Linked DNA regions of Homo sapiens. The protein of the gene in region 1 interacts with the protein of each later gene in a pairwise test. Each region holds a gene or a part of one and is shown in the gene's direction. Other genes may lie near its edges. The genes, in order: MAL, CLDN20 and HIBADH.

Region 1 (3,655 bases):
GCTGTCCCATCTCTATTTTGATGGACAGTAACAGGGTGCAGCTGTGGGGTCGGAGGAAGTCTGGCCAGTTGGCAGAAACAAAGGGGACACAGCACCGTGCCTCCAGGGTGCCAATAATGTTTTCAAAATAATTGCCTCTTTGCACTGCCACCTGGAGGCTGGGAGCCACCTGGAGTCTCCTTGATGAAAGGAAATGCTTGAACCCTCACATACTCCCTTGCTCTGGACAAATATTTGGCCAGCGGGGTCCTGAGGCCAGGCTGGAACAGATTGCTCTGTGCCCAGGAGTGCCTTAACTCCCTGGTGTGGGTGCCCTTCTTACTCTGTTTGCTCTCTGTACATTTAGTAGGTGGAGCAGGGCAGGAACCAGATTTGACTCATGGTTTACAACAAATCTCAGCTTTGCACACAGCGGGGCTGGAGGCTCACCCTCCCTGGAGCCCCACCTTCTGCTACTCCTTGACCCAAGCCCGGCTGCCCAGCCTTCAGCCTCCAAAGCCCTCACAGCTGCTTCAGCATCCTCTGAGCTTGGCATGTGCCCTTTCTGCCCTCTGGAGAGCCCCTCCCAGTCCTTTGGCCTGGTTAACCAGTTAGGTCCACCTCTCTCTCCAAGGCTCGACTGACCCTATGCACCTGTCCAGGCTGCTCTGCCCACTCGGGGCTGGTTGTCCACCTGCATGTTAAGTGGCTGCTTATGCATCTGTTTCCACTGAGCTGTCAGCCTCCTGCATGAACGACAACTTATTCCCAGGTATTGGTAGTGCTGGGCTCAGTGCCAGAAGCTTCATACTCACATCTGTAGTTTTAGCCAGTTCACACCAGCCCCCAGTGTGGGGAGACTGCTGTGAGTTGCCATTTGCAGAGAGGAAGCTGGGGCCAAGAGGCAGAATCACTTGCTGCAGCGTCCCACAGTGACTTCGGAGGACAGCTCCTCTGAGAACGGGAGTCCCCTGCCAAGGGGAGGGAGCTGGCAGGGCGCCTCTGCATTAGAATTCTCCCAGAGAAGACCGCGGCAAAGGCCTGTGCTCCAAAGGCAAGGGGCATGACTCAGCTGAGGCAACAGCTGTTTCTGTTCCACAGACACCTAGCCGGGAATGAAATCTCTCCTGACTCGGCTGTGCCTTTCCCGTATCCTCCTCTTCTTCTCAGGATTGCTCTTCACCCTCCTCCGCCCTGTCCCCCAGATGGCCCCTGTGACCCTGGGCTCTGCAGTCCTCCCTGGGCATCTCCTGGGCAGTGCTGAGCGGAAGGTCGACCGCCCCACTGCCCATCCCCTGGGAGCAAACCCCTGGCTTTCATGATGTCATCTGTGCTGAGACATCTGTGACTACCTTCACCTTCATATGTTTCTGGGACAGGCAAGGACTGGTGTAAGAGCGTCCCTAGGAACGTGGTTCCTCAGAGGCTTCTGGGTTGGAGGCTCCAGGGACATGAGACACACTCACCCAGGGCCCCCTGAATGGTGGGGTCCAAAAGGGGCACTGTGCAGCTGCAACGGTAGAGATATTCTGTGTAAGTCCCCTTGAGAGAGAATTTCTCACCTGAAGACATTATACTAAATGAAAGAAGTGAGCCACAAAAGTCCATATGTTGAATGATTCCATTCATATGAAAGTTCAAAATATGGAAGTTTGTAGAGATAGAAAGTAGATTAGTGGTTGCTTGGAATGGGGGCAGGGAAGCCACAGCTCATGGGATTTCTTTCCAAGGTGATGACAATGTTCCAAGATTGACTGTGGTGATGGACGCACGTATCTGCGAATATTCTGAAAACCAGGGAATCATACCCTTTCAATGGGGGAACTGCATGGGCTGTGAATTATAGCTCATAAAGCTGTTTAAGAAAAGAAAAAGATAATGTCTCCCCACCATCTCACTATGAAACATACTGCTATAAATATACCATGCAAAGGAAAAAAGTCGGCCTCATTTTTTAAAGGACTCACTTGCAAGGTGATGCCCCCAGAGGCTGGGTGGGGTCCTGAGATCTGTCAGGAGCTGGGGTTAAACCCATAGTGGGCTTTGTTCTATGGACAACTGTGGACAAGGTTCCCACTATAGACTGCAGGAACCTGCGAGCCAGTGTGGGGAGCATGGAATTTCCCAGGGAGCTGGAAAATAGTCTTCATCAGGTTGGTAAAAGCACACACTGGAACAGGGCAGAGTCTGGCCTGACCTCAAGGCCCTCCGCGCAGCTGCCGGAAGCTCAGAGCCCAGGCTGTGGCTGCAGCCAGCAAGGTGCACACAGGAGGCTGTGACCAGCTCTCCACACACTGACTTCCCCTCACTTTTCCTGCCATTGATTCCTCACACCAGTCACATCTTAAGCCACGTGGGAAGAATGGAGTGGAGTGAGATGACTCTGCAGACAGGAGCTGAGGACTACCTTCTCAGATTTGCCATTTCCAGCTGCCATCTGTGCATTAATTTACCTCATATGTATTTTACAGTTAATTTTTCCCAAAATAATGACATTGCAACCATAAGCATAGAAACAATGTCACTATCCGGTTTACCTTTGCCTATCCACGCTATTAGAGAACTCCAGACACCTGGCTCCACCCTGAGCCCTTCTTGCCTTCATCAGAAAAACCAAAGAGAGTAAAGGAGGAGGAAAATCGTTTCCTCACTGTGAAATTCAGTGTTCCTCGATAGCATGTGTATAGGTCACCCGTAAGCGCCTCTGGCCCACGGGGTCCCACTGGGATTCCATAACGGAGTCTCTTCCCAACCATGTGCAACCCAAGCTGCTCCTTTGGGGTTTGGTTCATAAGTGGCTCTAGTTCAGCCACACCCAGGTACCAGGAGACCAAGGCCCGTTAGCTGACTTGGACACCGATGCATGGCTGGATGGGTCTTCTCCTGGTCCCCACCAGTGAGGCAGCTGTGAGCAAGGCAGACCTCAAGCCCACCATCACCTGGTCAGGGAAAGCGCCATGTTATCCCTAACCCAATATACCTGTGTTTGTGCTGAGTGCTACAGAGAAGACGTGCAGGACTCCCTGAGACTGTGTGAACGAGGAAGCAACTTAAATTGGTCCTCCTGGGAGGGTCACGTAGCCACCAGGCAAAAGGCACTTAGGAGAGGGGTTCCCAGGCCAGGGCCTCCCTCTTCCCACTGGATGTGCCCGCTGGATCCTCCTCCTATTTCTCCATGCCACCCTCGCATGCCTCCTGAATCCAAGCCCTGCCTGTACCAATGTGCTCCTGTCCCTCCGTCAGTGCCCGTTATGGAAAAGGCCACATAATCTGTTGAATCTTAAACTCAACTGTGGATGAAATCTACACACACATCTTATTCCATGGTGGTCTGGGCATTTTTATTTAATTGATTTTGCTCCCATTTTTGTAAGATGCACAGTGCATCCCACCGGCCCTGCCACGTGCCTTCAGGCAACCTAAGATCCATCAGCAGAGGACGCTTTCTGGTCAGAGATGCCCACATCTGATTCCTTAGGGACAACTTGGTTTTAATAAATCCAAAGTCTTCATTGCACTGATTTTTCTACCCAAATGCAATTCTCTCCTGATTGCTTCTCAGTCAAGCAGCTCAGAGAACACCTGTGAAGACAGCGGTATCTCTCACCCAGCAGGTGGGCAGCAGGTGCAGGGAGGTGGGGGGGTCAAGGTGCTATGTGAATTCAAACCACAGGGG
Region 2 (3,655 bases), on another chromosome or scaffold:
GGACTTAAAAGATTAATATCCCTTTAATGTCCACATCAGAAGTGGATAGTAATGTTGATAAACTATATTTCTATTTACACTTCTACTTTCCTAGCTCCTTTTTTATATAAGAAATTCTGCCTTCATTAAAGGTCTATAGCTAACGAAAGTTGCTTCCAGTTCAGAAGTTTTCCTTCTAAAGCAGGCAATTAATATTTTATAGGATTATTGTTTTCATCAAGGCAAAAAAATAATCAACATGTTTTGAGAATAGAAATGTACATTAAATGTACATTAAAGCATGCTTAACCCATTTATCCTCCAGCCAGCTTCCTTATGCTAGAGGTTAGAGTGGGGAGCAGCCGGGTCCCTCCATCTGCCATCAGTCAGCCTCACAAAGCTTATGTCTGCACTAACAACCATGGCGACCAGCGAAACAAGCCAGGACGCTGGAGGGCCCTGGTGAGGTGTCTTCGGATGCAGCACTAATGACACTGCTGCGACTATTAGTGTCTGCAATTCAACTCAACTTCTTCCAGTATTTATTTATGCACTGAATTGTTTGTATTTCCCATGAAATAAAATCAAAGAACAAAGCCAGTACACATAAAGCTTACAACGACTTAGAGAGCTAAGACTTAACATGTAATCAATACTATGGCTGAAAAGCAAACCCACAGATGTTAGACTTAGAAAAGAGGAAAAAGAGTATCTTGCTCAATGCAAAACTTAGGATTAAAACAAACCAAAACAAAAAATCCAGATAACCGAAACATGTGTTTGTTTATTTACTACTTTTAAAGAAATGATTAAAGTCTAACATGGTTATTAACAGTTGTTAAATTTAAAAATCCAATAATAAAATTATCTTCTTTCTGTATAATGGCTATGAATTTATAGCTTGTAGAATAAAACTTACTGAGGAAGAAAAAAATGAGAACCCAAAAGGATGGCAGTGAAATCCATCTGTACCATTATTCATGGGCTACAACCTCAGTATCTGATCACAGTCTTATCTGATGTGTCTCATCACATCATTTTGGGTAATTTATTCATAACATTTCCTGAATCTCTATAGTTATACTCCACAAATCTAAGTGGAAGCAATAACAAGAAAACTCAGGGCACCACACACACAAAAATACCTGTAGGTTTAGTGATCAGATTCTAGTCAAAAGTTGTTGCTGGGTTTTCTTTTTTCTTTTATTGAAAAAAATACATATGTTAAAAAACTTTCTTCTGAATGATTATTTTGAAAATTAACAATTTTATGAATTCAGGTTCCAGACAAGTCAAGAATACCAGGGAAAAAAGGGAGTCTCAACTCTCATTTGCAAGGCACGACATTGTTAAAAATATTTCAGACCACATTCTTGAACTGAGGACATAAAATAATACATTATATCTTTCAACATAGAGAAAATTTCAAAAATAAGTTATAACTATGTGACTAAAACATTATATTAAAAGAAAAGAAGGCCTTTTTGTGAGCACCCAAATAATTCCTCCTCTGTACACAGTGACACAAAAGCATTTTTAGCTTTCAGGTTTCAACAAATCCTGTTGTAACAACAATTCCCTCCCTTCCCCGCCTCTCCTTTCTTAATTCTCCCACATCTCAAAAAATGAGATGGAGAACCTGGTATTTATCTTCTAACACCATCAGCAGTTTTTACCTCTCAGATTTCTACGTTGTCCTTTATTTGCTTTTTTCAAGTTAACTTATTGGAGCTTTATAAACATATCCAGAATTTCTGAAATAAGCCTCACGTATATGGTTTTTCTTCACCATAACTAACTGAGGTTAATTTGAAGACAACTGACCGAAGGAGTTAAGACAGTGAAGGCTACTGACAAAAGGTATGGTAAATAAAACCTGTCTTAATGCTTAGAGATCTAAGAATAGGTCTTTCGGTATTATTTAGTTCGAATTATAAGCAGTAAATCTGCTTTTAAATATTATTTTTGATATAAATAAACCTTGTCTGGAAAGCTGACTTTACATTTTAGTGAAATCTACAACAGACTTTCTGTTGGCGAGTAGTTCATAAACTGAAGGTGCCTGGGTTCTGTTCTGTGTGCACTGTGTTTTGGGACCATGAGAGAGTTTTCACTGTAGACCATGTAAGTGTTTACATGCGACCCCTCCCCTCTGCTTCTGCTTGCCTTCACAGTATTTCTCTACCACCACCACCACAGCTGCTGGAACAAAGTGTGCCTTTATTCTCTACGAGATAGAAATTTTGAGAGAACAGGCCACAAACGGTATTATACTCGTGGCTGGAGGGTAAAGCGCAATGCAGCTAAAATGCCAGTATATTTGTATGAGCAGAAAGTGACCTTCATTTGGAGAACAAATTCTTTCTACATAAGTTCTCTATGCAGAAAAAAAAGCATTTGAATCCAATATTCAACAGTAAGCAAGCACTATGCTAATTAAATGACACGTCATATTGTTTACACTGATTTTGGCTGTCTGTAATTGATCACTGCCAGTACTTGTTAATCATGATGAACAAACTGTCTTCATGTCTGAAATATACTGAAAGTTATAAAATATATCAGTTAATGGGAAGAAAAGGATTATAATTGGTAAGCTGAACATAGATTGACAACAAAGGTTATTCAGTCAAAGTAGAAAGAAAGAGAGAGGGAGAGAGAAAAGTGAGCAAGCAGATGCTGTTAGAAAATGTTCCAGCAACCCCACACTTGAAGAATCCCTAAGCTGAAAATGGTCCAGAGGCAGTAATTTAGCAAGCTGGCTGGAGTCCGAAATGCTAAAACCTAAACTTGAAAGCAGCTATTACAAAACTGTAAACATGTGCTTGATTTTTTTTCTAGAAACTTTAACTTTTGTTCTATTTTGGTCTAAGTTTGGAAAACAGAAAAGAAACTGTATGATAGCAGGTGAATCCTAGGCACACTGATGTCTACAGATAAGTCTGACTCTTAAGAACTTAAAATCCTAGGGAAATCCTTTTCTAAAATGGTAAGATTTACATTTTCAGATTATGAACAAAAACAGAACAGCACAATCCAGATAGTCTAGGATCTAATGTCTTAGAGAATCAATGTTTGTAGCTATGCAAAGTTTATACTTTAAATATAGGCAATGGATTAGTACTATTTCAAATATTTAACCAAAGCCAGGCATCAATCTCCTTGCCGAGTCATCTGAAGCTGAGCCATGTGGCCTATTAACATCCTCTACAGTCCTTTTTTTCCTTGGTGGGGAGGGGAGTGGGTGAAGTAGACAGTTAATGGTGCTTTTTGCCTCCAGATACAGTGTTTTCCCTGGTTCCCAAGGGAAACACACAGGGGGAGAAAGAATTTCAGCAGGAAGTGTTGTGGTAAAAGGGGAAAGGATGCGGGATGACCCTGTGAGGTAGGAGGGGTGGAGAGAGATCTGGACGCTGCAGGTTGGCTGCTGAAGACTGTATGACATGGGGTGATATCCTATCTGAACATTCTGATCTGAAAAAACAAGGATGCTTGAGATTGTCTGTCTGAGGTTTCTTTCAGCTCCAAGATTCTATGAAAATAAATCAGCCCAAGGAAGGAAGAGAAAAAGGGAAAAGATCCAAATAATTTTAAACATCAATTGTCACAATACATAAGAAATAAAAATACTAATAATGATGTCAATTTTAAATTACTGAGGACTTTCTGTGGCTTA
Region 3 (3,655 bases), on another chromosome or scaffold:
ATAATTTTTGTATTTTTAGTAAAGACTGGGTTTCACCATGTTGGCCAGGTTGGTCTCAAACTCCTGACCTCAGGTGATCCACCCACTTTGGCCTCCCAAAGTGCTGGGATTACAGGCGTGAGCCGCTGCGCCTGGCCAAAATTCCTAACCCTCAATATAATGATATTAGGAGCTAGGCCCTTTGGGAGGCAATTAGATCATGCGGATAGAGCTCCTGTGAATAGGATTAGTGCTGTTGTACAGAGAGACATGAGAGTGGCTTCTCTTTCTGCTCTCTACCATGTGAGGATACAGTGAGAAAATGGCCATCAGCAAACGAGGAAGTGGACCTACCAGACACTGGATCTGCTGTCACCTTCATGTTGGACTTCCTGGCCTCCAGAACTGTGAGAAATAAGTGTTCGTTATTTAAGCCATTATGGTATATTTGTTATAGTAGCTCAAACTAAGGCATCTAGAGGATTACTGTCACTTTTATATTGGTCTTCTTGCCTCCAGGCTCTTTTCTTCAAGTTCATTCATTGTACACTGCTGCCTCATTTCTGTTCCTAAAGTGTAAGTCTCATCTGTCATTTCTCTTGCCCACTGTTTCAATAACTACCTCTTGCCTACAAAATACAAGTTGTTTAGCATCCTTCTATCCTTCCACATTATGGTTGCATTTTTTTTTTAATCTTAATCTCTTGCTGTTTTGTTTCTTTGTGCATTCTTTAGGAAGAATAGAGGGCAGTATCATACAATGTTTACAAGTGGAGACTCTAGAATTAGAATGTCTGGATTTGAATCTTGGCATTACAACTTAGTAAAGTATTAGGTATTTTACTTCAACTCAGCATCAGGGTTCTCAGCTGTAAGATGGGCTTCATATATAGCATATGGTAATAGGTCTGTTTATAAAGTGCTTAGCATAGTGTCTGGCATGTAGTAAAATTGCAGTAAATATTAACTATTACTGTCATTTCTTCATGGCTCTTCTAGTTCCTTGTATATATTCATGTTCCTTTTTCTGTATGGAGTTCCCCTCCTCCTTACCCTCCTATCCATTTGAAATCCTACCCCTTGTATAATATCCAGGTCAGATGCCACATTCCTCAAGTTCCCACACCATGAATTCTCATTTTTCATCAGCATTGTGTTTTTATCTTTAACTGTCTTATGTTAGTGTTTATGTACATGGTTTATTTCTTCTTGGTTTTAAGCTTGTTGAAGGCAAGGACTGTGTCTCTTACCTTCTTTGGCATCTCTTTTGGTACATGTGATAGTTGCTTAGTGTTTGTTGAATTTGTGAATGAATTGTGGTTCTACGTGACCATACTTATGAATTGTTTGACCTAGAGTGAATTGCCTGTTAAATTAACTGTCTTTAAATTATAATCTTCCTAGTTGCTGAAGTTTTTAGATTGCTAAATTACACCTTTTCAACCTTAACACAGTAATGCCACATTTTCTTTCTGGCTATTATTGCTAGTTTGTTTATGAGCATTAGTTAGAGTTCTCTGATGAAGTGTACTCATTCTGTTTAATATCAAAATAAAATTTCAGTTTGGTGTCACTTTTCTGTCATTGAATTCCTTGCAGGCCAGAAAGACAAACTATACCAGTGTACTATTATACCAGTGTACTATTATACCAGTGTATTAAACTTAGCGCCTGTTAAATGATGTTGCACAGAAATGACACCCACATTTAATGGAAGTGTTAGAGTCAGTCATTAAGTTAAAGGAATTAAATATGCTTCCAACCCAAGAAGACCTCTAGTTCTTAAGCATTAGGGCTTCAAATAATTTGCTTTTAACAAATCTCATTCCATTCAGATTCAGTTCAGGGAAGAGCAGATTAAGTTCAGTTGAGGGGACCTGAAACTTAAAAGAGGGACTGTGATTAGTTGTTGCACTACAAATTTTAAAGCTGGAGTTCTTGAAAGAAAAAAGAAAAAGAATGCTGGGAAATGGAAGAGCAAGGAGAGTTACTTCTCTCTTTTCCCTCACTAGACTGTGAGCTTTTAAAGGACAGGGACCATACGTTGCTTGTGTCTGTCTCTGAGCTCTGTCATAGTACTTCATGCAGTGAATATTTATTGAGTGGAGTTCTAAATCTAGAAAGTGAAAAATTGCATCTAACGCTATTTCCATAGTACTGTAAAGCCTCCCCACTCTGTAACGCATTACTTTGATTCATATGCCCACGGAGTAATTTCAAAAAGTCTTATATGAAAAATAAAAGAATAAATAAAACCTGTGTAGTTTTTAAGGCTTTTTTTTTTTTTTTTTTAATGGCAGCCTGGTCAACATGGTGAAACTCTGTCTCTATTAAAAGGACAAAAATTAGCCAGGCATGGTGGTGCGTGTCTGTGATCCCAGCTACACCGGAGGCTAAGGCATGAGAATTGCTTGAACCCAATAGGCAGAGGCTTCAGTGAGCCGAGATTGCATTACTGCCCTCCAATCTGGGTGACAGAGTGAGACTCCGTCTCAAAAAATAAATAAATAAATAAATAAATAAATAAATAAATAAATAAATAAAAATATAATAAGGAAGTCTCTCTTTTCTGAAAGTTCAGAGTTGTTAGACCAAGGTCCTGATACTGTTACACTTGCCATTTAAAGCCTATGGAGGTATCTCCCCTTTCTACCCCAGGACCACCTTTATAAACTGGTGATTCCATTCTCCTGGGTTTAACATCTTTTTGAGTTTTTTTTTTTTTGTATCATTGGAGGGGATGGTTTCTGTAACTGTGGGAGTGGGAAGGTAAAAAGTTTTTCCATTCTTGAAGCTGGTCCAAGACTTACGTCTTTTTGAATACTTTCTGTCTTTTATACACATTATTAAGGGAGATAATATGGAATACTTCACATTATAAGTAAATTACATATTAGGTGTTTTATAAATGATAACATTATTTAGTTTATTGTTAAAAATGGTAAAAGAATGTTATACAGGTACAAAACAGGAAAAATGCTTAAAATTTTGTGAATGTGCCCCAGAAAACTAAATAATTAGAAGTTAGTCTGCCTGCACATTGTTGATAACTTTAAATGTGGTTAGGTCCATTAGTTTAAAATTTGCCTTTTAAAAGTTAGTGGGTTTTTTTTTTAATAAATATTATTATTTATTTTTGAGATGGGATCTCACTGTGTTGCCTAGGCTGTTCTAAAACTCCTGGGCTCGAGCAGTCCTCCTACCTCAGCCTCCCAAGTAGCTGGGATTATAGGTGTGCACCACTGCACCTGGTTCCTGAAAGTTTCTTTTATTAAAAAAAAAAAATCTAACAATTGACTTGCTAATATTAAATGAATGTTTACAATAAAAAATGTTATTTGCCCCTATTGAAAATAATGTATTGAAATCAGTGTGTTCTAGGTCAGTGGCTTCAAAGACTCCAGTTGGATTCATTGGACTGGGCAACATGGGGAATCCAATGGCAAAAAATCTCATGAAACATGGCTATCCACTTATTATTTATGATGTGTTCCCTGATGCCTGCAAAGAGTTTCAAGATGCAGGTGAACAGGTAAGACCTTTTCTTTAGATTTGTTTTAGATTTTGAGAATGAAAAATGAATATACATTCAAATAAGTGACAGCTTCTTAGAAGTATACCCAATGGAGTTGTAAACCTAATTCAGTGTTAATTTTATATATATGTAATCATTCAT

Evidence for each region.
Region 2: the proteins of MAL (region 1) and CLDN20 interact in binary tests that used the Homo sapiens proteins (3 or more experiments, as listed by UniProt).
Region 3: the proteins of MAL (region 1) and HIBADH interact in binary tests that used the Homo sapiens proteins (3 or more experiments, as listed by UniProt).

Annotation. Positions count from the first base shown.
Region 1 is NC_000002.12:95,042,587-95,046,241, forward strand, and holds part of MAL (myelin and lymphocyte protein), read left to right. Parts: intron 1-3,298; exon of another isoform or gene 3,299-3,561; intron 3,562-3,655. UniProt on the Homo sapiens protein: May be involved in vesicular trafficking from the Golgi apparatus to the cell membrane. Plays a role in the maintenance of the myelin sheath, and in axon-glia and glia-glia interactions.
Region 2 is NC_000006.12:155,270,358-155,274,012, forward strand, and holds part of CLDN20 (claudin-20 precursor), read left to right. Parts: intron 1-3,655. UniProt on the Homo sapiens protein: Plays a major role in tight junction-specific obliteration of the intercellular space, through calcium-independent cell-adhesion activity.
Region 3 is NC_000007.14:27,649,329-27,652,983, reverse strand, and holds part of HIBADH (3-hydroxyisobutyrate dehydrogenase, mitochondrial isoform 1 precursor), read left to right. Parts: intron 1-333; exon of another isoform or gene 334-384; intron 385-3,350; coding exon 3,351-3,511; intron 3,512-3,655.